3 linked regions of the Homo sapiens genome follow. The protein of the gene in region 2 interacts with the protein of the main gene of each other region in a pairwise test. Each region holds a gene or a part of one and is shown on either strand. Other genes may lie near its edges.

Evidence for each region. The genes of interacting proteins can lie anywhere in the genome.
Region 1: the proteins of RNF20 (region 2) and CHEK2 interact in binary tests that used the Homo sapiens proteins (3 or more experiments, as listed by UniProt).
Region 3: the proteins of RNF20 (region 2) and TACC3 interact in binary tests that used the Homo sapiens proteins (3 or more experiments, as listed by UniProt).

The regions. Positions count from the first base shown.
Region 1 is NC_000022.11:28,724,821-28,731,820, forward strand, and holds part of CHEK2 (serine/threonine-protein kinase Chk2), read right to left. Parts: intron 5,729-7,000; coding exon of another isoform or gene 5,600-5,728; intron 548-5,599; coding exon 423-547; intron 305-422; coding exon 157-304; intron 104-156; coding exon of another isoform or gene 66-103; intron 1-65. UniProt on the Homo sapiens protein: Serine/threonine-protein kinase which is required for checkpoint-mediated cell cycle arrest, activation of DNA repair and apoptosis in response to the presence of DNA double-strand breaks.
Region 2 is NC_000009.12:101,536,270-101,544,246, forward strand, and holds part of RNF20 (E3 ubiquitin-protein ligase BRE1A), read left to right. Parts: intron 1-3,933; coding exon 3,934-4,101; intron 4,102-4,220; coding exon 4,221-4,368; intron 4,369-4,523; coding exon 4,524-4,706; intron 4,707-7,977. UniProt on the Homo sapiens protein: Component of the RNF20/40 E3 ubiquitin-protein ligase complex that mediates monoubiquitination of 'Lys-120' of histone H2B (H2BK120ub1).
Region 3 is NC_000004.12:1,724,521-1,731,520, forward strand, and holds part of TACC3 (transforming acidic coiled-coil-containing protein 3), read left to right. Parts: intron 1-3,187; coding exon 3,188-4,267; intron 4,268-6,366; coding exon 6,367-6,442; intron 6,443-6,651; coding exon 6,652-6,781; intron 6,782-7,000. UniProt on the Homo sapiens protein: Plays a role in the microtubule-dependent coupling of the nucleus and the centrosome. Involved in the processes that regulate centrosome-mediated interkinetic nuclear migration (INM) of neural progenitors.

The DNA of each region.
Region 1 (7,000 bases), on a different chromosome or scaffold from region 2:
CTCCCAAAGTGCTGGGATTACAGGTGTGAGCCACCACGCCCAGCAACTTACTCATCTTTACTCACTTAAACCATATTCTGTAAGGACAGGACAAATTTTCCTCCTATGAGAGAGTGGAAAAAAAAAATTCCAGTAACCATAAGATAATAATATTACCTTTATTTCTGCTTAGTGACAGTGCAATTTCAGAATTGTTATTCAAAGGACGGCGTTTTCCTTTCCCTACAAGCTCTGTATTTACAAAGGTTCCATTGCCACTGTGATCTTCTATGTATGCAATGTAAGAGTTTTTAGGACCCACTTCCTAAAATAGAGAACATTTTGTTTCAGACTTTGAATAGCAGAGATTTATAGTGGGAAAATATCTAAAAACAATGACCAAATTACCAGCTCTCCTAGATACATGGGTATTCATTACCTACCCTGAAAATCCGAAAGTGTTTCTTGCTGTATGTTCGGTATTTATCTGTTCTTTTCAGCAGTGGTTCATCAAAGCAATATTCACAGCTTTTGTCCCTCCCAAACCAGTAGTTGTCATTCACACATTCTGTAATATAAAAGCATGCATCAGAGGGCTGTTGAATTTCATGTATCAAACGTTTAAAAATTGCTCATAAATGCTAATTGTAGGAAAATAGCCTAAGAAGGCAATCAGAATTATCAATCTGCTTATCAAGATTTTACAAGATTAAAAATTAGGAGAGAAAAAACAACATTACCAATGAGTTTAACAAATGGCAGTTTATCTATAACCACATGGCCAGGCACAGTGGCTCACACCTGTAATCTCAGCCCTTTGGAAGGCTAAGGCAGGAGGATCACTTGACCCCAGGAGCTCATGACCAGCCTGGGCAACATAGGGGGCACCCATCTCTACCAAGAATTTAAAAATTAGTCTGGGCAACATGGTGAAACCCTATCTCTACAAAAAATAAAAAATCAGCAGGGTGTGGTGGTGGGTCCCTGTGGTCTCAGCTACTCAGGAGGCTGAGGTGGGAGGATCGCTTGAGCCCAGGAGGTCGAGGCTGCAGTGAGCTGAGACTGCGCCACTGCACACTAGCCTGGGCGACAGAGTGAGACCCAGTTTCAAAAAAAAAAAAATGGCCAGGTGTGGTGGCTCATGCCTGTAATCCCAGCACTTTGGGAGGCTGAGACGAATGGATCACGAGGTCAGGAGTTCAAGACCAGCCTGGCCAAGATGGTGAAACCCTGTCTCTACTAAAAAATACAAAAATTAGCTGGGCGTGGTGGCGGGTGCCTGTAATCCCAGTTACTCGGGAAGCTGAGGCAGAGAATTGCTTGAACCTGGGAGGTGGAGGATGCAGTGAGCCAAGATTGCGCCACTGCACTCCAGCCTGGACGACAAAGCAAGACTCTGTCTGAAAAAAAACAAAAAACAATTAACCAGATGTGGTGGTGCATGCCTGTAGTCCAGCTACTCAGGAGGCTGAAGGAGGAGGATCACTTGAGCAAGATAAGCTGATGCTACAATGGGCTGTGATCCTGCCACTGTACTCCAACCTGGGCAACAGAGCAAGACCCTGTCTCAAAAAAATAAATAAACAAATATTTAATATATATTATATATTTATTTTATATTTATTATATATAATATATATAATTTGTATTTATTATACATGTTATATAAATTTATTTTATAAGTTGTCTTAAATATAATTATATATTTATACACAATATAACATATATTATATATTTATAATATAGTAATTATATCTAAATATATAATAATATATAATATATATTATAATCTATTAATATATGTATTTATATACACAAACACACACATACACATACATATATATATAAAACCGTGAAATAACAAATAGTCATTAAAAGTTCTCGAGTAATTTTTAATGACTTGGAAAATTACTTGCAATACAGTAATTTCCTGCTTATTACCTTCCTGAGGTTTTCCATGACACTTAGCATAAAATCTGCACTCTTCCTCATGGCCTACTAGATGCTCAGGGTCTGGCGTCTGCCACCATTCCAGCCCCACCTCATACCCCTCTCCCCTTGCTCATGACACCCAGCACCACTGGCCTCCTTTCACTGCCCCCAAGAATGCTGGGTTCAATCTGCCTTGTGGTCTTAGCACTTCTTCCCCAACTACACAAATGGCTCATTCCACCTTGCCTTTTGTATAACAGATACTATCTACACAACACTATCTGCCTTTAGGACTCTACTATCATCTCCCACTCAGCTTTCTTTCTTTGAGATGGAGTCTCGCTCTGTCGCCCAGGCTGGAGTGCGGTGGCGCGATCTCGGCTCACTGCAACCTCCACCTCCCAGGTTCAAGCGATTCTCCTGCCTCAGCCTCCCGAGTGGCTGGGACTACAGGCACGTGCCACCATGCCCAGCTAATTTTTTGTAATTTTAGTAGAGACGGGGTTTCGCCATGTTAGACAGGATGGTCTCGATCTCCTGAACTTGTGATCCGCCCGCCTCGGCCTCCCAAAGTGCTGGGATAACAGGCATGCGCCACCACACCCGGCCTCCCGCTCAGCTTGTTATATAAACATTACTCACCTGTTATCATAATGTTATCCTGTTTTATATCTTTTTGGGTATGGGCCACGGCTGGAAATTACCTTGCTTATTTGTATATTTTCTCCCCACCTCCCTGCATTAGAACATAACCTCCAGGAGGGCAGCTGGAGACCTCTTGTTTAACAGTACAACTCCAGCACTTGGGATATTGCACATGGCAGGTAATTAAATGTTCATTGCAAGGCAGACTAGGGAAAATACTAGCAACTCCTATCAGGAAAAGGAATAATTTCCCTAATAAATGTTAGGTTCCTATAAATCAGTGAAAACGCTAAACAGTCCAGTAGAAAAATAGGTAAAGGATATGAAAAGATAATTTACAAGAAACAGAAATACAGCTGGCTCAAACATATGAAAGGTGGCCAAGCTAACCCAATATAAGAAAATTCAGAAATCAAAAACACATTAAGATTTCATGTTTTACCTATTAGATTGGCAAAAATCCAAAAGTTTCATATCACCCTGTGCTGGCAAGAGGTATGAAAAAGCGGGTACTCTCATACATTGCCATTGGGAATATAATTTATACACACATTGTCTATAATTGTCTAGGGAGGACAATTTAGCAAGATCTATCAAAATTACATATGGGCTGGGCACGATGGCTCACACCTGTAATCCCAGTACTTTGGGAGGCCAAGGAAGGAGGATCACTTGAGCCTGAAGGTCGAGGCTGCACTAAGCTGTGGTTGCACCACTCACTCCAGAGTGAGAGTGAGACCCTATCTCTAGAAAGAAAAAGAAAATTAACAAATCCAAATTTAGTTAGTTAAAAAGATCAACAAGTTGGCAAACCTTAGACAGACTGAACAAGAAAAAAAGAGACAAGACTCAAATTACTAAAATTAGAATGAGAGAGATAATTACTACTGATCTGACAGAAATAAAAATGATTTAAAAAGAATAATTGAACAATTGTGTGACAGTATTAGATGACATAGGTGAAATGGACAAACTCCTAGAAAGATACAAACTACCAAAACTAACACAAGAAGAAACAGAAAATCTGAATATACCCATAAGAAGTGAAAAGACTGAATGATAATCCTAGCACATTGGGAGGCCAAGGCAGGCGGATTGCTTGACTTCAGGAGATTGAGACCAGCCTGTGCAACATGGCAAAATCCCGTCTCTACTAAAAACAAAACAAAAAAAAATTTAGCCAGGTGTGGTGGCGCGCCCCTGTAGTCCCAGCTACTCTGGAGGCTGAGGCACAAGAATCGTTTGAACCTGTGAGGCAGAGGCTGCAGTGAGCCAATATTGTGCCACTGCACTCCAGCCTGGGTGACAGAGAGAGAGACTCTGTCTCCAAAAAAACAAAACAAAACAAAAGACTGAATGAGTAATCAAAATATCCCTACAAAGAAAAGTGCAGTCCCAGATTGCCTCACTTTAGCTTGAGCAACATAGGGACACCCCATCTCTATCAAAATAAAAAAATTAGCCACACATGGTGGCACATGCCTGAGGTCCCAGCTACTCAGGAGGCTGAGGTAGGAGTTGAGCCTGGGAGGTCAAGCCTGCAGTGAAACGTGATAGTGGGTAACACTCCAGCGTGGGTAAGAGTGAGACCCTGTCTCAAAAAAAAGAAAAAAGAAACACACGGCTGGCTTCATTTTAAATTCTATCAAATATGTAAAGAACTAATACCAATTATTCTCAAACTTTTCGAAGAAATTCGGAACGGAACACTGTCAACTCATCTATGAGGCCAGCATACCAAAACCAGACAGAGACATCACAGTAAAACCACAAACCAATATCCCTTGTGAATATAGATATAAAAATCCTCAACAAAACAGTAGCAAACTAAATCCAGCAACACATAAAAAAGATTACAAATGACCAAACAAGAATTAACCCAGGACGCCAGGCGCGGTGGCTCACATCTGTATTCCCAGCACTTTGGGAGGCCGAGGCGGGCGATCACGAGGTCAGGAGATGGAGACCATCCTGGCTAACACGGTGAAACCCCGTCTCTACTAAAAATACAAAAAATTAGCCGGGCGAGGTGGCGGGCGCCTGTAGTCCCAGCTACTCGGGAGGCTGAGGCAAGAGAATGGCGTGAACCCCAGGGGGCAGACCCTGCAGTGAGCCGAGATCACGCCACTGCACTCCAGCCTGGGCGACAGCGAGACTCCATCTCAAAAAAAAAAAAAAAAAAAAAAAAAGAATTAACCCAGGAAAGCTTGGTTGGTTTAACATCTGAAAACCAATTAATATAATACACGATAACAATAGAATATAGGAAAATAGACACAGAAAAAAATTTTGGCAAAATGCAACACCCTTTTATAACAAAAAATACTCAGAAAACTAGGAATAGGAGTAAACTCCTTCAACCTAATAAAGAGCTTTTATTTTATTTATTATCTATTTATTTTTAATTTAGAGGCAAAGTCTTGCTCTGTGGCCTGCAATCATAGCTTGCTGCAGTCTCCAACTCGTGGCCTTAAGCACTTCTCCTGCCATAGGCTCCCAAAGCACTGAGATTATAGGGTGAAAGAGTCAGAGCAACCAGCCAGAAAGCATTTTTTTTTTCTTTTGAGTCAGAGTCTCACTCTATCACCAACTAGCTGGAACTACAGGCTCCTGCCACCACGCCCGGCTAATTTTGTTTTTGTATTTTTAGTAGAGACGGGGTTTCACCATGTTGGCCAGGATGGTCTCGATCTCCTGACCTTGTGATCCGCCCACCTCAGCCTCCCAAAGTGCTTGGATTACAGGCATGAGCCACTGCACCCACCCCAGAAAGAACTTTTATGAAACATCCACAGCTTAGTCTTCAGATATCAGAGGAGAAAGGAGAGAGGAAGAGAGAAGAGGAGAGAGAAGAGGAAAGAAAAGAGGAGAGGAGAGGAGGGGAGGGGAGGAAAGGAAAGCGGAAGGGAAAGGAAAGGAAAGCGGAAGGGAAAGGAAAGCAGAAGGGAAAGGAAAGGAAAGGAAAAAAGAAAGGGGAAAGGGGAAAGGAAAAGGAAAAGGGAAAGAGAAAGGGAAAGGGAAAGACCCACAGCTAACATCATACTTAGACTGCAAACTGGCCGGGGATGGTGCCTCACACCTCTTATCCCAGCACTTTGGGAGGCTGAGGCAGGAGGATCAGATGACAGCAGGAGTTCAAGATCAGATTGGGTAACATGGCCAGACTCTGTCTCTACAAAAAATAAAAATAAAAAAGTTAGGCCAGCCACGGTGGCTCATGCCTGTAATCCCAGCACTTTGGGAGGCCGAGGCGGGTGGATCACCCGAGGGCAGGAGTTCGAGACCAGCCTGGCCAACATGGTGAAACCCCATCTCTACTAAAAATACAAAAATTAGCCAGGCATGGTGGCATAAGCATGTAATCCCAGCTACTTGGGAGGCTGAGGCAGGAGAATCGCTTGAAACCGGGAGGAGGAGGTTGCGGTGAGCCGAGATCATGACATTGCAATCCAGCCTGGTGACAGAGCAAGGCTCCGTCTCAATAAATAAATAAATAAAACTTAAAATGAATAAAGGACCTTAATTAAACATAAGAGCTAAAACTAGGCCAGGCACTGTGGCTTATGCCTGTAATCCTAACACTTTGGGAAGCCAAGATGGATGTATTGCTTGAGCTCAGGAGTTTGAGACCAGACTGCAACATGATGAAACCCCATCTCCACCAAGAATACAAAAAGTTAGCTGGGAGTGGTGGTGCACATCTGTGGTCCCAGCTACTCAGGAGGCTGAAGTGGGAGAATTGCTTGAGCCTGGGAGGCAGAGGCTGAAGTGAGCTGAGATTGTGCCACTGCACTCCAGCCTGGATGACAGAGTGAGATCCTGTCTCAAAATAAACAAACAAACAAACAAACAAAAATTTAAAAAAAGGAATTAAAACTGTAAAATTTTAAAAGAAAACATAGGTATAAATAATTAACAAATAATAATAATAAACAGCCTCGGCCAGACGTGGTGGCTCGCGCCTGTAATCCCACCACTTTGGGAGGCCAAGGCGGGCAGATCACCTGAGGTCAGGAGTTTGAAACCAGCCTGGCCAATATGATGACAACCCGTCCCTACTAAAAAATACAGAACTTAGCCACGGTGGTGGGCACCTGTAATCCCAGCTACTCAGGTGGCTGAGGCAGGAGAATGGCTTCAACCCAGGAGATTGAGGTTGCAGTGAGCCAAGATCGTACCACTGCACTCCAGCCTGGGTGACAGAGTGAGACTCCGTCTCAAATAATAATAATAATAATAATGATAAACAGTCTCTATTTATTCAGCACCTACTTTATGCTGGTCATCCTATCAGGATCTTTGTTTACTTGTCTTTTTTTGTTTTTCCTTTTTGTGGAGAATGGGGTCTCGCTATATTGCCCAGCAGGTCTCAAACTCCTGGGTTCAAGCTATCCTCCCACCTCTGCTGCTCTAAGAGCTGGGATTACAGTTGAGAGCCCCTGCA
Region 2 (7,977 bases):
AGGTTTTGATCTACGTCAAGATTTTGCTTTTTTGAAAATCAGACATGGGGATGTGATATTAAAATGTTTTACATTTTGTAAAATGCTTTACATTTGTATGGCTTGCAAAACCACATCTATTGCTTATTTGATTTTGAGGCTGAGGTTTATTTTAGAGAGGCTGATTTTTTTTTTTGAGTCAGAATAATAGGAACATTCATAGTGAGTTGTTGATGAAGTGTCATTTCTGAGGCTGCCTGAGGTTCTGGTACTTAATATTGCTGGCAGGAAGTGATTTTTGTTTTAGCACTGCCTTGCATCATGCATTCCAAAGGCATTTATTCACTCAATATATAAATATTTGTTGAGTATTTGTTATTTGCCAGACACTATCCTTTACACTGAAGACAGCCCCTAGACTTTAGTTTGTAGGGTAGCACTGACAAGGGAATAGACTGTTTAGAGTGGGGTATGTGCTGTTGACAGGGATAAGCACATACTTATGGGAAGCACATAGCACACACCCCAGTGTGGACTTTATCCAGAGGCAATGAGGAGTTAGTGGATAGTCTTAAGTAGGAGACTAACATGCTCTGACTTGTGTTTGGAGACTATAGAAAAGCAAGGATTATAAACAAGAGTCCAGCTAGCAGACTTTTTTCTTTTCTTCTTCTTACTCTCTTTCGCTATAACTGCATCTCTCCAAAGGTGGGGATCTGAGGCATGTATCCACTGATCCCCGCTCCAATTGGTTGAAGGTTGCCATTGAAAGCAGTCCCTCCTGTGCATTTTGAGATTGCTGTTAGGAGCCAGCTGTGATTGCGGGACAGAAAAACTGAGTCTCCAAAGTGTGCTTGAAGTGGGAACAATGGCAGTGTAAATGGAGCTGTCCACCACAGCTGTGCTGAAATCTGGCAGGCTGACAGGACTTAGCACAGAGTTTTTGCTATAGGAGGCCTTTGCAGTAATCTTAATGAGAAATCATGGTGGCTTGGACCACTGTGGAGGTAGCATTGATAAGATCTGCTGATGGATTGGATAACTCACATGAAAGATAGGAGGGAGGATCATCCCAGGATTTTGAAAGTAATGGAATTTTTACTTACTGAGCTAGAGAAGTGTATGAGAGGAGCAGATTTTTGGGAGTCATGGAGGATGAATTGAGTTTGGTTTGGTTTGGGACATATAAGTTTGAGATACTTATTTGACCTCTGAATGGATAGGTAGTTAATAAGCTGGATACTAGAGAGAGGTCTGGGCTAAAGCTGTATATTTGGGAATCGTCATTTTGTAAGTTGTGTTTACATCTATGAGACTACAGACTCCTTTAATGAATAAGCATAAAGAGGTCTGCTGGGGCACTACAATATTTTCATGTCAAGGAATGAGAAAGGACTAATCAAAGATACAAACAAAGAGGGACCAATGAGGTAAGAGGATAGGAAGAGAGAATGGGTTCCCAGAAGCTCAATGAAGAAAGTATTTCAAGAAGGAGCTGATTAGGTGCTGCTGATGTGTTCTCATTCAGGTTTCAGTTGGAACAAGGGGAATAAAGGGAGGACTGAGGTGTTATATTTAATAATAGTTCACTGGAGATACCAAAACACCTTTGTTGGTGAAATAGTGGGGATGGCACCCTGTTTTCAGTGAGCTTAAGAGAATATGAGGGGAGAGGAATTAGGAAAAAGAGAGTAGAGACAATGCTTTATAAAGGAGTATCGCTGTAAAGTAGATGACTATATAATGACTGATCATGGAATTTAAGTTCAGTAAAGAAGGAGGTGAGAGAAGTGAAAGGTATAGGACCAATGGATTGTAGATCCTGGAGAGGTTAAAGAATTTTTGGAGTAAGGAAACTGGAGAGAGTGAGCTGGAAAAATAGTGGTAGTTGTGAAGAATGAGGTGTTTGAAATTGAGCTTATAGAGGACATGTAGGTACAAGTAAGACTAAATGTGGGAGTTGGTGGCTGAAGGAGGTAGAAGACAAGATCATTGGTGAAGAGGAGGTCAGTGACTTGATGATTCAAGTATAGGAAAGGTTATCTGTATGGGTATTGAAATCATTAAGAATGATGACAGGAAAAGTATTGGAGAGTGATAATAAGGTAGGTGCTAAGTCTTTGTGAAATGTGAGGAAACGACGTGGGCATTTACAGATGAATTCAACAGAGCATGGCGGCAGGTGGTATAGGCTAATGGCATGAGCTGCAGAGGTAGGAGGTTTTAGGGAGGAAGGTGGGGTAATGGCCTGGAAGTGGCAATGGAAAATAAGGAGGATATTCATCCCTCTCTGGCTTCAAGGGGTGTGGAAGAGAAACAGCCACCACTAGAGAAGCCTGCAGGGAAACAGTTTCTCATCCAAGTTTCAGTTAGAGCAAGAAGGGAAAGGCAATGTTCAGAGAAGAGTTTGAGGATATAGTTTATTAATAGTGTTAATAAACTGGTACAGTGGGAAAACTGTTGACTACTTTGGCATATTAGGAATGTTTTAATTAAAGTGGAAAAGAGAAAAATGAAACAAAAATTGGTGGTGTAATAAACAATTGTCACTTTAAAATAATGATTTCATTAATTCCTCAGAAAAGTAAGACTATTTTTCCACATGCTGGTTCTTTGCTTGTTATATCCTCCAATCCCACCTCCCACCAACCCCTCCCTGGTTTGTCCTAGGGAAGGAGCTGGAGAGAGAAAAATATTGAGAGGGATGTGAAATTACTAATGGAGTGAGGGTTTTGTAGAGACAGAAGAGAACAGGATCCTGAGCACAAGCTGAGGTTTTAAGAATGTGTGCATAATTGTGTTAATGGGTCAAAGAGATGGGGAATTGTTTTCCATCTGATGGCTTCTATTTTCTCATTAAAATAGGAAGTAAAGCCATCTGTTTTGTATGATGTAAAAGGGGGCAGGGTTTGGTAGAGGTTGATGTTGCCTTGCTGGAGAATGGGAAATAGCTCACTTGATAAAGAAATATTTCTAGACAAATTATAAAATCTGTTTAGGCTAAGAATTCATTTTGTAAAGGCACCGGTTTCGGTGGTTTGATGAACTTCTCTAGAAGTCTCAGCATACTGGGTACAGGAATGGAATAGCCAGATAACTGGATTAATTCAGATTGGGGTTTGTTGACAGAGATAGAATAAAAGGATTAAGGGCAGAGAACCAAGGAGGCTGTTAGGCAGGTGTTTGAAGGAATGTACTATATAGCATATGATTAAGATATGGAAGGTAGCAGAGATAGAAGGAGACCGAAAAGGAGAAAGAAAAGAATTCAACATTCTGGAGATCTTGATGAGGTAAAGGGATTGGTATATTGGGTTAAGGGCATGAGATACCTGGAAAGACGTGGTGTTTTTCAGGGAATGGGAAGTTGGAATATAAGATTTCAGATGTGGTACAGTTCCAGATAATGACAAAAGTCTGAGATGTGTCTTTTGAAGTGCATGGCTGAAGCACAGTGGAGGAGATAATGTTTGGAGTGAAGGAACTGGAAAAACTGACAGCCTAGATGCTAGAGGATTAGATGGTTTGTCCACATGTATGGTGAAGTCACCAGATATATTGGCAGGAACTGGGATAGACAGGGACCCAGGTGCTGAAGTCTTTAATGAAGGAAGGATGGTGCTTACGAGATAGAAGACAGTGTTGATTGGAGTCGAGGGTGATCTAGCTGGATGGTGGCCTTAAAGCAGCATTACTTTGTAGATGTTTATGTGACTAGAACAGCGAGATGGGTTGAGGTTCTGGTGTATTTGTGTGTATTATTCTTTCCTCACACCATCATATACCTGTTGTTTATCTCTTCTGCTTCTACTTCTTAATTACTTGTAAGATTTTTTAAAAGTCAATAGCTTTATTCATAGAAAATAACTAATGAATAATTGTGACCTTGTTGAGTTTAACGGCTCATTTTTCTTATTTCTTTGTGGAGACTAATACGATTGGTTTACTGGGCAGGAGGAACTAGACATTAGAACACTGCAAACCAAAAATCGCAAGCTGGCAGAAATGTTGGATCAGCGGCAGGCCATTGAAGATGAACTTCGTGAGCACATTGAAAAACTGGAACGACGACAGGCCACTGATGATGCCTCACTATTGATTGTCAACCGATACTGGAGTCAGGTAGCTAACTTGTTTATTTGTTCAGATTTTTATTTGACCAATTTAGTTCTCCTTACTGTTCTCTTCATTTCCAAAGTTGTGTCCTTTGTTTCTTCATAATTGTACCTACCCTTCTCCAGTTTGATGAAAACATCCGTATCATCCTTAAACGTTATGATCTGGAGCAGGGCTTGGGAGACCTACTCACAGAACGAAAAGCCCTTGTTGTGCCTGAACCAGAACCAGACTCTGATAGCAATCAGGAGCGTAAAGATGACCGAGAGAGAGGCAAGTGTTCGTGATGGATTCTATCACTGCATGCTATCTGGGTTTTTAAAGTAGAGCTCTGCTTTGAGGCTTTCCATTTGAGGGAAAAAAAATGGATTTTGTTATTTCCAGTTTATAATTTTGGGGGGCTTCTTTTTTTCCCCCTGTGTCCTCAGGGGAAGGGCAAGAGCCAGCTTTCTCTTTCCTTGCTACTTTGGCCAGCAGTTCCAGTGAAGAGATGGAGTCTCAGCTGCAGGAACGTGTGGAGTCTTCCCGCCGAGCCGTGTCCCAGATTGTGACTGTTTATGATAAATTGCAAGAAAAAGTGGAGCTCTTATCCCGGAAGCTAAACAGTGGAGGTGAGGCAAGACCCTGGAGGCCGGGAGTAGTGGAGGAGGAATAAGAATTCATTTTTGCATGCTAATTTGTAGTTTGCAAGCTTACATATTTATTTTTATTTATTTATTATTTACTTTTTAAGAGATAAGGTTTCACTGTGTCACCCAGGCTGGAACACAGTGGCACCATCATAGCCCATTGAATCCTCGAACTCAAGCAATCTTTCTGCCTCAGCTTCCGAATAGCTAGGACTATAGGCACGTACTACCACACCTGGCTAATATTTTAACCTTTTTGTAGAGAGGAAGTCTTGCTATGTTGCCCAGGCTGGTCTCAAACTTGGCCTCAAGAGATCCTCTCTTCTGGCCTCCCAAAGTGTTAGGATTACAGGCATGAGCCACTGTGCCTGGACTATATATTTTAATTAAATTTTTAGAAATTCTAACCTTCAGTGTTACTGGTAATGTCTTCATTATGGCATATTAATCTTTTATCAGTGCTTCTCATTTTGAGCCACATGACAGTCCTTTAATAAGCTGAGGAAAGAGTTTATCAGCTCTATACTGATATACTCTATTAATGACAGTTTTGTAAATAGCAGAATTAACTTTATTATTTAATAAACAGCTCTAATATCTGGATCTGTTTATCGTGTATGTAGGCTATTGATTTATAGTGATAATACTTTATTTTAAATAACAACTATATTATTTAATTATTAGTTACAGAATTTTGACTTGAAAAAGTTAATTTTTACTTAACTTATTTTTCATTATCGCTAATGTTTTTAAAAAGAGTTGGTGCAGGTTTTAGAGTTGACAGATGATCTGTATGGTTAAAAGGATTATTAGAAAATATTCTATGGATGAAAGAGTATTTGAAATAAAATAATTATTTGGGATAATTGTGTTACTCAGAGTTAATGCAAAAATTTAAATTTGTACAGTAAAGTATTTGTGTAGCTAGGTTACATCTTTAGTCATTTGTGGCATAAATACCTTGCTCAAATGCAAAAAAAATGCCTTGATTTCATGTTTTCAATAATAATCATGGTCTAGTTGTAATATCTTAATTTCCCTGCTTATCATTAAGATGTTTAACCTTTCATTTCTGAAGGAAATAAGTTGAATGTAATGGAGGTTGAACCATTGGATGAGCATATAAGAATTGTATTATTCTGTAATTTTGCTTTTAAGGGTAATTGGGCTAAGTTGTCAACAGAATTAAGCAGCTTGTAGAAGGCCTGTGAAAATTTGGTCACGGGTTTCTTTTGCTTTTCCATTAGATTATGCATTTCTGTATTTTATTATAAGGAAAACAGATACTTGTTTAAAAATATACAAGTCAGAAATACAAATAAGTAGACTACAAAAGTTTCCCCATTCTCATTTCTCAAAAGATAACCATTCTAAACAATGTGTTTTATGTCCTCTCAGACTTTTGTACTTTTGTATTAATATCTTACATCTACTTGCATGTCCCCAGCTAAACTGTGTCTTGGTTCAGTAGTTTGGCTCACTCTTCTTTGTTTCTCTAGTTTCTAGCACTGCATCTGGCATCTAGCAGATGTTTAGTCAATGGGGAATGAATGGATGTGAACCTCCCTGTCACCTAATATAAAATAATGGTGCTTTGTGTGTGCACATATGCTTCTTTCTCCTTGGGCTCTAATTGAATAGTTAGAAGGTATTGTTAAATTTTAGTAATATGGTAATTAATATGCCATGTGCATAGACTATGTTAAACTTGATTTCATAAATGAATATCAAGTGAAACAATTGTTTTATTTAAAAAGGGAATAAAATGAGTAGTATATCAAACGACTTTAAAATTACTATTTAATGGCATGCATTTTAAGGTCGGGTTTAAGTTAAAAAGTAGAAACATTACAAATAGCCATGCCATTATTTGTAACACAAAAGGCAATTGCCATTGGTAAGCTGAACTTTCTAAGAGATAAAGATGTATAAAGTATGAATTATAGCATCAGTTGTAACTTGTTTGAAAGTTCATCCCCCTGACTTAGACTGAAAATTGACATTCCTCAAATTCCTAGGACATCATCAATACAGTAGTTTCTACTTCCCCATTCCCTGTGGAATTTCTACCACGCCATTCCTCAATAACACTATACAGTCTTTTATATTTAGGGTAATTCATTATTTGGAGGTTTGGAGTTGTGTTGTGTTTTACAAAATCCCCTATGATATGATAGGCCTTCTAGAGTAAGGTAAGGCCTTCTAGAGCAAGTATAGGCCTTATAGAGTAAGGTCTATAAATTCATCTAACCCTGCCAGAGCGGCACTGTCTAACCTGCCACGGCAGTACTGTCTAACCGTGCCAGGGCGGCACTGTCTAACCCTTCCAGGGCGGCACTGTCTAACCCTTCCAGGGCGGCACTGTCTAACCCTGCCAGGGCGGCACTGTCTAACCTGCCAGAGCGGCACTGTCTAACCTGCCAGAGCGGCACTGTCTAACTCTGCCAGGGCGGCACTGTCTAACCTGCCAAGGCAGCACTGTCTAACCCTGCCAGGGTGGCACTGTCTAACCCTGCCACTGCAGTACTGTCCAACCCTGCCAGAGCGGAACTGTCTAACCTGCCAGGGCGGCACTGTCTAACCTGCCAGAGCGGCACTGTCTAACCCTGCCAGGGCGGCACTGTCTAACCTGCCAGGGCAGTACTGTCTGTTTGTTTGGTCTTTGATTCAAAAGAATTGCATTTATGGGCTTGTTTATAAATTCACTAAACATTTATTGAATTTTATTGTATTCTAGCCCTGTCCTCAGTGCTTAGGATATTGAGAGGACTAAAATTCAGTCTCTACTTCTTAACTCAGGTTATGAATCAGAATAACCTTGGGAGTTTTCTGAGCATATTCTTATTTTTGGCTTTGCCCATGGAGGTTCTTATTAAGTAGGTATGAGATAGGTCCTAGGGAAATGTCTATTTTAAAAGTTCCACAAGTGATTCTGATGGGCAAGCCTAGCTTGAAAACCATGAAAACCACCATATGACCAACCTGTTCTGTATTGATACTAAGAGTAATGCCAAGAGGTGATATGAGAAAGCATATTTTTCTTCCTGATAACTCTCTTTGATGGGTGGTATATATCCTGAGAGTATCTGGTTTCATTTAATTACATTTGGATTTCAGCTATAGTATTTGCAACTCTAATTTTAAACATACGAACTTGGTGTAATAAGTTCTATGGATTTACCTACCTGCTTTGTAAATAGTAGTGTACATTTTGGTTTTTAAGCTTCAGAAGTGCCCCTAACATAGTATTTCA
Region 3 (7,000 bases), on a different chromosome or scaffold from region 2:
GCTGGGGCTACAGGCGCCCGCCGCCACCACTCCCGGCTAATTTTTTAGCCGACCTGATTCTTAACTGCAAGTGGATGGCGAGGCGGTGTCTGTCTTTGCCTAGAAAGGGAGGATCCTGGTGGCAGCTCTTTACTCTGCGGCTGAACTAATCTGTCTGGGCACCCAGGAACACCTCATCTGCATCCAGGGTGGGAAGGGACCCCAGAGGCATGATTTTCTGTTGGTTTTTTGCTGATGTAACTGTTGTTGCTGTTGTTTTGAGACAGAGTTTCGCTCTGTCACCCAGGCTGGAGTGCCGTGGTGCCATCACAGCTCACTGCAGCCTCAACCTCCTGGGCTCAAGCAGTCCTCCACCTTGGCCTCCTTAGTAGCTGGGACTACAACTGTGAGCCACCATGCCCGGCCAATTTTTTTTTTTTTTTTTTTTTTACACGGAGTTTCATTCTTGTTGCTCAGGCTGGAGTGCAATGGTGCGATCTTAACTCACCACAACCTCCGCCTCCCAGGTTCAAACGATTCTCCTGCCTCAGCCTCCGAGTAGCTGGGATTACAGGCATGCGCCACCACACCTGGCTAATTTTGTGTATTTTTAGTAAATATGGGGTTTATCCGTGTTGGTCAGGCTGGTCTTGAACTCCCGACCTCAGGTGATCTGCCGGCCTCGGCCTCCCAAAGTGCTGGGATTACAGGCATGAGCCACCACGCCCGGCTGGCCCAAAACTTTTAAGCAGATTTTAGATGTGCAGAGAAAAGCATAAGGAACAGAATACCACTGATGCTTCTCACCCCCTGAGATAAAATGTCACCAGTAAGTGCAGGCAGCATTTCCTACATCCTTCTCTGGGCCCTGGGTCCGTCTCCCCTCTACCCCTCCAGCCTGAATTTGCAGTTCTTCCCATGTCTGCTTGCTACTTTTCAACTTTGTTTTTTGCCCCTTTTGAAATTTGGTCAAACGAAGCGAGAATGAATCAAACATTGGTTTACAACGACCCCAAGAAGGAAGGGAGACCCAGCAGCAGAGAAGTCGCCTCCCAGCTGCCATGGGTGTGATCCGTCCCAGAGCCACAGATCCCCTGCCTCTCCCCTATGCCTCCAGGATCACCCAGCAGCCTCCATAGGGCAGAGGGTGTAGAGGAGCTGGGAGGGGCTTGAGAGGTTGGCCCTGAGGGGCTCCAGCCAGAGTGACTCTGAGCTTGTGGCTTGGACTCGTGGCTGTCATCTCCTTTCTGGAACTCTGCTGAGGCCCAGGTGGTGGTCACTGTGGTGCTCCCACGTCAGTGGGATGAGACCAAGAGCAGCCGCTGCGTGCAGCTGCCCACGTGTCATTCAGAGGACAGCCGAGTGGCCGCCTGGGAAGGCAGTGCCGCCCCAAGGTGGCAGCTGGGCAGCAGAGGAGTTGTGAGCAGTCTGACAGGTCCCTCACCCTCAGTTTCTCAGTTTTGACATCTTCAAACTTAGAGTTGGAAGAGAAGGGCAGGTGACATGGGCCCCTTATCTGAGGCACTGGCACATGACCCTGCGTCTTCTCAGGGACCTGAAGGCTGGGGAACAGGTGAAACAGTGTTTGTGCCCTCTGTGTTGTAGTCCAGCCCCAACCATCCCAACAGCCGCCTCTTCTGTCAGGGGCCCTGCGCCATGCAGTCCCACATTGTGAGCAGCGAGTGCCCCAGAGACAGGTGGGTCCCTGGGAAGGTGTTCTCTGCACCTGTGCCACTCCACTGTAGCAGGCGCCATCCCAGGGAGGCGTCGCAGAGGCCACTCAGGTCCTTCTGTGCCTGCAGGTGGCATCCTGCACCTCAGCCCTGCCCTTCAGTGAAGGCTTTGACTGTCCCTGGCCACAGCACTGCCAGTCCCCGACTTGAAGGGGAAAGCAGATTCATGCAGAAAACCTTTGTTTACCACGCCCCCTGCTGGCCATCCTGGGGCCTGCAAGTCCCCAGGACTGATCTGTTGGGCATGTCCTCGGGTGAGGTTTAAGCCACAGGACAATGTTGACTGAGCTTTCTTGTTTTGCTTGTAGCTGATGTTTTCACGCAGATTAAAGTGTTATCGGAATGCTGTCAGGTCCCTTAATGTTAGAATTCAGGGTCATTAAGTGGTGCACACCCTTCAGTGATTAGGAGAAACACAGGCGGAAATAATGATTATATGACTTACAGGCCCACAGCAGGCTGGAGGCCACACAGAGGACTGGGGCCAGGCCCTGGAGCATAGGCAGGGGACAGCTGAGAGGGTGGCAGCCAGCCTTGTCTATCGGGGAGTAGGGTGGGGTCACTGTATGCTGGTGGGCAGGTGCTCGAATGGATTTTTTACAGGAAATGGTGGATGCCGGGTGCGGTGGCTCCTGCCTGTAATCCTAGCACTGGGAGGCCGAGGCGGGTGGATCACCTAAGGTCAGGAGTTTGAGACCAGGCTGACCAACATGATGAAAACCTGTCTCTACTAAAAATACAAAACAAAATTAGCCAGACATGGTGGCGGGCACCTGTAATCCCAGCTACTTGGGAGGCTGAGGCAGGAGAATCGCTTGAACCCCAGAGGTGGAGGTTGCAGTGAGCCGAGATCATGCCATTACACTCCAGCCTTGGCAACAGAGCAAAAATCCGTCTCAAAAAAAAAAAACATAAAAATAAAGGAAGTGGTGGGAAATTGAGGAGCCCAGTCTACCAGGTGGGAGAGATGCCTCCAGGCTTCTTTCTCTGGCATCAGCTTGAGGCATTTGGGTGTGCTGTCCCACATCTGACCCCCCAGGCAGCAGCCTGTGCTGTGTGCATGCTGTGGGCCTGGGGGCAGACCTCGTGCATGATGACGAGTGCTGTTTGGGTGGCAGAGGCTGCTGGAGGAGTCTGGGTCCAGCACCTGGCAAAGCGCGTGATGAGCACAATTAAACAGGCAAGCAGCCCAGAGGCACCCCTGTAACTTGGAACCCCAAGAAGCATGAGGGCGGGGTCAGCGAGGAAGTCACGTGGTTGTGTCCAGCCGTTCCACCGGGAGCTGGTCCCTGGGAGGACAGGAAGGAACTACATTGAGGAACTGAGGTGGGGGGTGGAGAACGGGAAGCCGTGCCAAGGGTGACTCAGCCCTGCTTCTGGTGTGAGAATGTTAAACCTATGTTGAGAATGAATGCTGAGGCCCCTAACCTCACCAGGTACTCGCTGCTTCACGTTGATTAAGTCTCTTTTAAAAGCCAACAGCTCATCAAGGAAGTGGATGCCAAAACTACTCATGGAATTCTACAGAAACCAGTGGAGGCTGACACCGACCTCCTGGGGGATGCAAGCCCAGCCTTTGGGAGTGGCAGCTCCAGCGAGTCTGGCCCAGGTGCCCTGGCTGACCTGGACTGCTCAAGCTCTTCCCAGAGCCCAGGAAGTTCTGAGAACCAAATGGTGTCTCCAGGAAAAGTGTCTGGCAGCCCTGAGCAAGCCGTGGAGGAAAACCTTAGTTCCTATTCCTTAGACAGAAGAGTGACACCCGCCTCTGAGACCCTAGAAGACCCTTGCAGGACAGAGTCCCAGCACAAAGCGGAGACTCCGCACGGAGCCGAGGAAGAATGCAAAGCGGAGACTCCGCACGGAGCCGAGGAGGAATGCCGGCACGGTGGGGTCTGTGCTCCCGCAGCAGTGGCCACTTCGCCTCCTGGTGCAATCCCTAAGGAAGCCTGCGGAGGAGCACCCCTGCAGGGTCTGCCTGGCGAAGCCCTGGGCTGCCCTGCGGGTGTGGGCACCCCCGTGCCAGCAGATGGCACTCAGACCCTTACCTGTGCACACACCTCTGCTCCTGAGAGCACAGCCCCAACCAACCACCTGGTGGCTGGCAGGGCCATGACCCTGAGTCCTCAGGAAGAAGTGGCTGCAGGCCAAATGGCCAGCTCCTCGAGGAGCGGACCTGTAAAACTAGAATTTGATGTATCTGATGGCGCCACCAGCAAAAGGGCACCCCCACCAAGGAGACTGGGAGAGAGGTCCGGCCTCAAGCCTCCCTTGAGGAAAGCAGCAGTGAGGCAGCAAAAGGCCCCGCAGGAGGTGGAGGAGGACGACGGTAGGAGCGGAGCAGGAGAGGACCCCCCCATGCCAGCTTCTCGGGGCTCTTACCACCTCGACTGGGACAAAATGGATGACCCAAACTTCATCCCGTTCGGAGGTGACACCAAGTCTGGTTGCAGTGAGGCCCAGCCCCCAGAAAGCCCTGAGACCAGGCTGGGCCAGCCAGCGGCTGAACAGTTGCATGCTGGGCCTGCCACGGAGGAGCCAGGTCCCTGTCTGAGCCAGTAAGTGTGAGGATGGGATGGGGAGCGTGGCGTGGGGCAGCTGCCCTGCAGTGTATGTGGTCCAGGACCCGAGGCCAGAAGTGTCATCAGATACTCCTTTGAGGCCGGGTAGGTTCTGCCTGAGGAGGGGCCTCTGGATAAAAACAGGGCTCAGGTGGCTCCCAGCTGAGGGTGCTTGGCCTTGCCTTGGCTGCCATGCATCTCTTTAGTGCTCCTGGCCTAAGGAGGGATCCAATAAGGGCGGGCTCAGGCCAGAAGCCAAATGCAACCAACCCTGGGCAGGACCCTGTCCCCCAGTCATGTTCCTCCTCAGGTGAACTTGACTTGGGTGTGTAACTCCAAAAGCCAGGCAAAGCCTGTTACTGCCTGGGTGGCGTCCGCTGCTTGCTGGGGTCTTGGCCGTGGGTCTGCTGCCTCCTGGCTGAATGGTCTTAGGCTACATCTCCTAGAGTTGCTCAGTGGGAGATTGTCCTGCCTGTAGGGTCCAGCCCTACTGGGTCTGTGGGTTTTTTCTCCTCGTGTGCATAGACAAGAGATTGTACAAATAAAGACACAAGAAAAAGACAGAAGAAAAGACAGCTGGGCCCGGGGGACCACTACCACCAAGGCACGGAGATCGGTAATGGCCCCGAATGTCTGGCTGCGCTGTTACTTATTGGATACAAGGCAAGGGGACAGGTTAAGGAGTGTGAGCCATCTCCAATGATAGGTCAGGTCACGCAAGTCACGTGTCCACTGGGCCCTTCCCTGTTTGGCAGCCAAGGCGGAGAGAGAGGACAGCTGACGCCATTATTTTTTCTATGTATTTCAAAGACTTTAGCACTTTGACTAATTCTGCTACTGCTATCTAGAAGACAGAGCCAGGTGTACAGAGCGGATCATGAAAGTGGACCAGGAGCGTGACTGCTGAAGCACAGCATCACAGGGACACAGGCCTCTGGATGGCTGCGGGCGGGCCTGACTGATTCCACAAGAGATGGTGGAGCAGAGTCTTCTCTAACTCCCCCAGGGAAAGGGAGACTCCCTTTCCCAGTCTAATTAACGGGTGCCTTCCCAGGCACTGGTGCTACCGCTAGACCAAGCTAGGTAACGGGTGCCTTCCCAAGTGCTGGTGTTACCGCTAGACCAGGGAGCCCTCCAGTGGCCCTGTCCGGGCGTGACAGAGGGCTCACACACCTCTTCCGGTCACTTTCTCACCGTGTGCCTTCACCTCCTATCTCTATATGGCCTGGTTTTTCCTAGGGTTATTTGTTTGTTTGTTTGTTTTTTGAGACAGAGTCTCGCTCTGTCACCCAGGCTGGAGCGCAGTGGCGTGATCTCGCCTCACTGCGAGTTCTGCCTCCCGGGTTCACACCATTCTCCTGCCTCAGCCTCCCGAGTAGCTGGGACTGCAGGCACCCGCCACCATGCCCGGCTAATTTTTTTGTATTTTTTAGTAGAGACGGGGTTTCACCGTGTTAGCCAGGATGGTCTAGATATGACCTCGTGATCCGACCGCCTCGGCCTCCCAAAGTGCTGGGATTACATGCGTGAGCCACCGCACCCGGCGTTTCCTAGGTTATTATTGTAGAACAAAGATTATTATAATATTAGAATAAAGAGTAAAGCTACAAACTAATGATTAACGATATTCATATATAATCATATCTATAATCTATTTCTAGTATAACTATTCTTATTCTGTATATTTATGATACTGGAACAGCTTGTGCCCTTGGTGTCTTGCCTTGGCCCCTGGGTGGCTTGCTGCCCACACCTGCCCCAGCCTCCACATTTGAAGCCTTTTGTCAGTTTCACAGTAAAAGGGATGTACTCATCCTTGTGATTCCCTTTGGCTGCATCGTGCTGACTTTAGAGCTCCCAGCCTGCTTCTCCCAGAGCTGGCAGGCAAGGCGCGTGTTTTCCTGCTGGGTGAGGTTGGTGAGGCAGTTTTGTGGCCAGGTCGCTTGGGACAGCCCCATGCCTGGCACGCTCTAGCTGAATGTTCACGTGGCCGGCACAGCAGTGCAGGGAAAGGCGATGGCAGCTCAGTGCTGGAGCAGGGGACGCCGGGGTTATGGGGTGGGGGGCATGGGCCTCTGCTGACTCTGTCTCCCCAGGCAGCTGCATTCAGCCTCAGCGGAGGACACGCCTGTGGTGCAGTTGGCAGCCGAGACCCCAACAGCAGAGAGCAAGGTAAGGGGTGCTTGTGTGGGTACCTGTGCTCCTGGCCTGGTCGTGTAGAAGAGTAGCAGGCAGTGGAAGCCCCCAGCAGCCTTGGGTGACGGGGTGGGATGTCCCGCTCCCTCTCCCCCAAGTCTACTTCAACAAGGTTGTGGGGAGGCAAAGCCACACCCCAAGTACCTTGACTGCACTGCACAGGGTGACTCTGCCCTTTCCTCCAGGAGAGAGCCTTGAACTCTGCCAGCACCTCGCTTCCCACAAGCTGTCCAGGCAGTGAGCCAGTGCCCACCCATCAGCAGGGGCAGCCTGCCTTGGAGCTGAAAGAGGAGAGCTTCAGAGACCCCGCTGAGGGTACGTTGCCTGGCACAGACGTCACACACAGTCTGCCCGGAGGGGATCCCGTGAGCACTTGGGCAGCTCGAGACACCTGCATCATCGGCAGGTGGTCATTTCGCAGGCAGTTGGGTCCCTTGACTTTGAATGACTCATGCACAAACTTGTGGTTTGTCAAAACTTAGTCAGTGTTAGGAGAGCAGGGCTCATACCTTTAACATAAAAGACTTCTAGAAA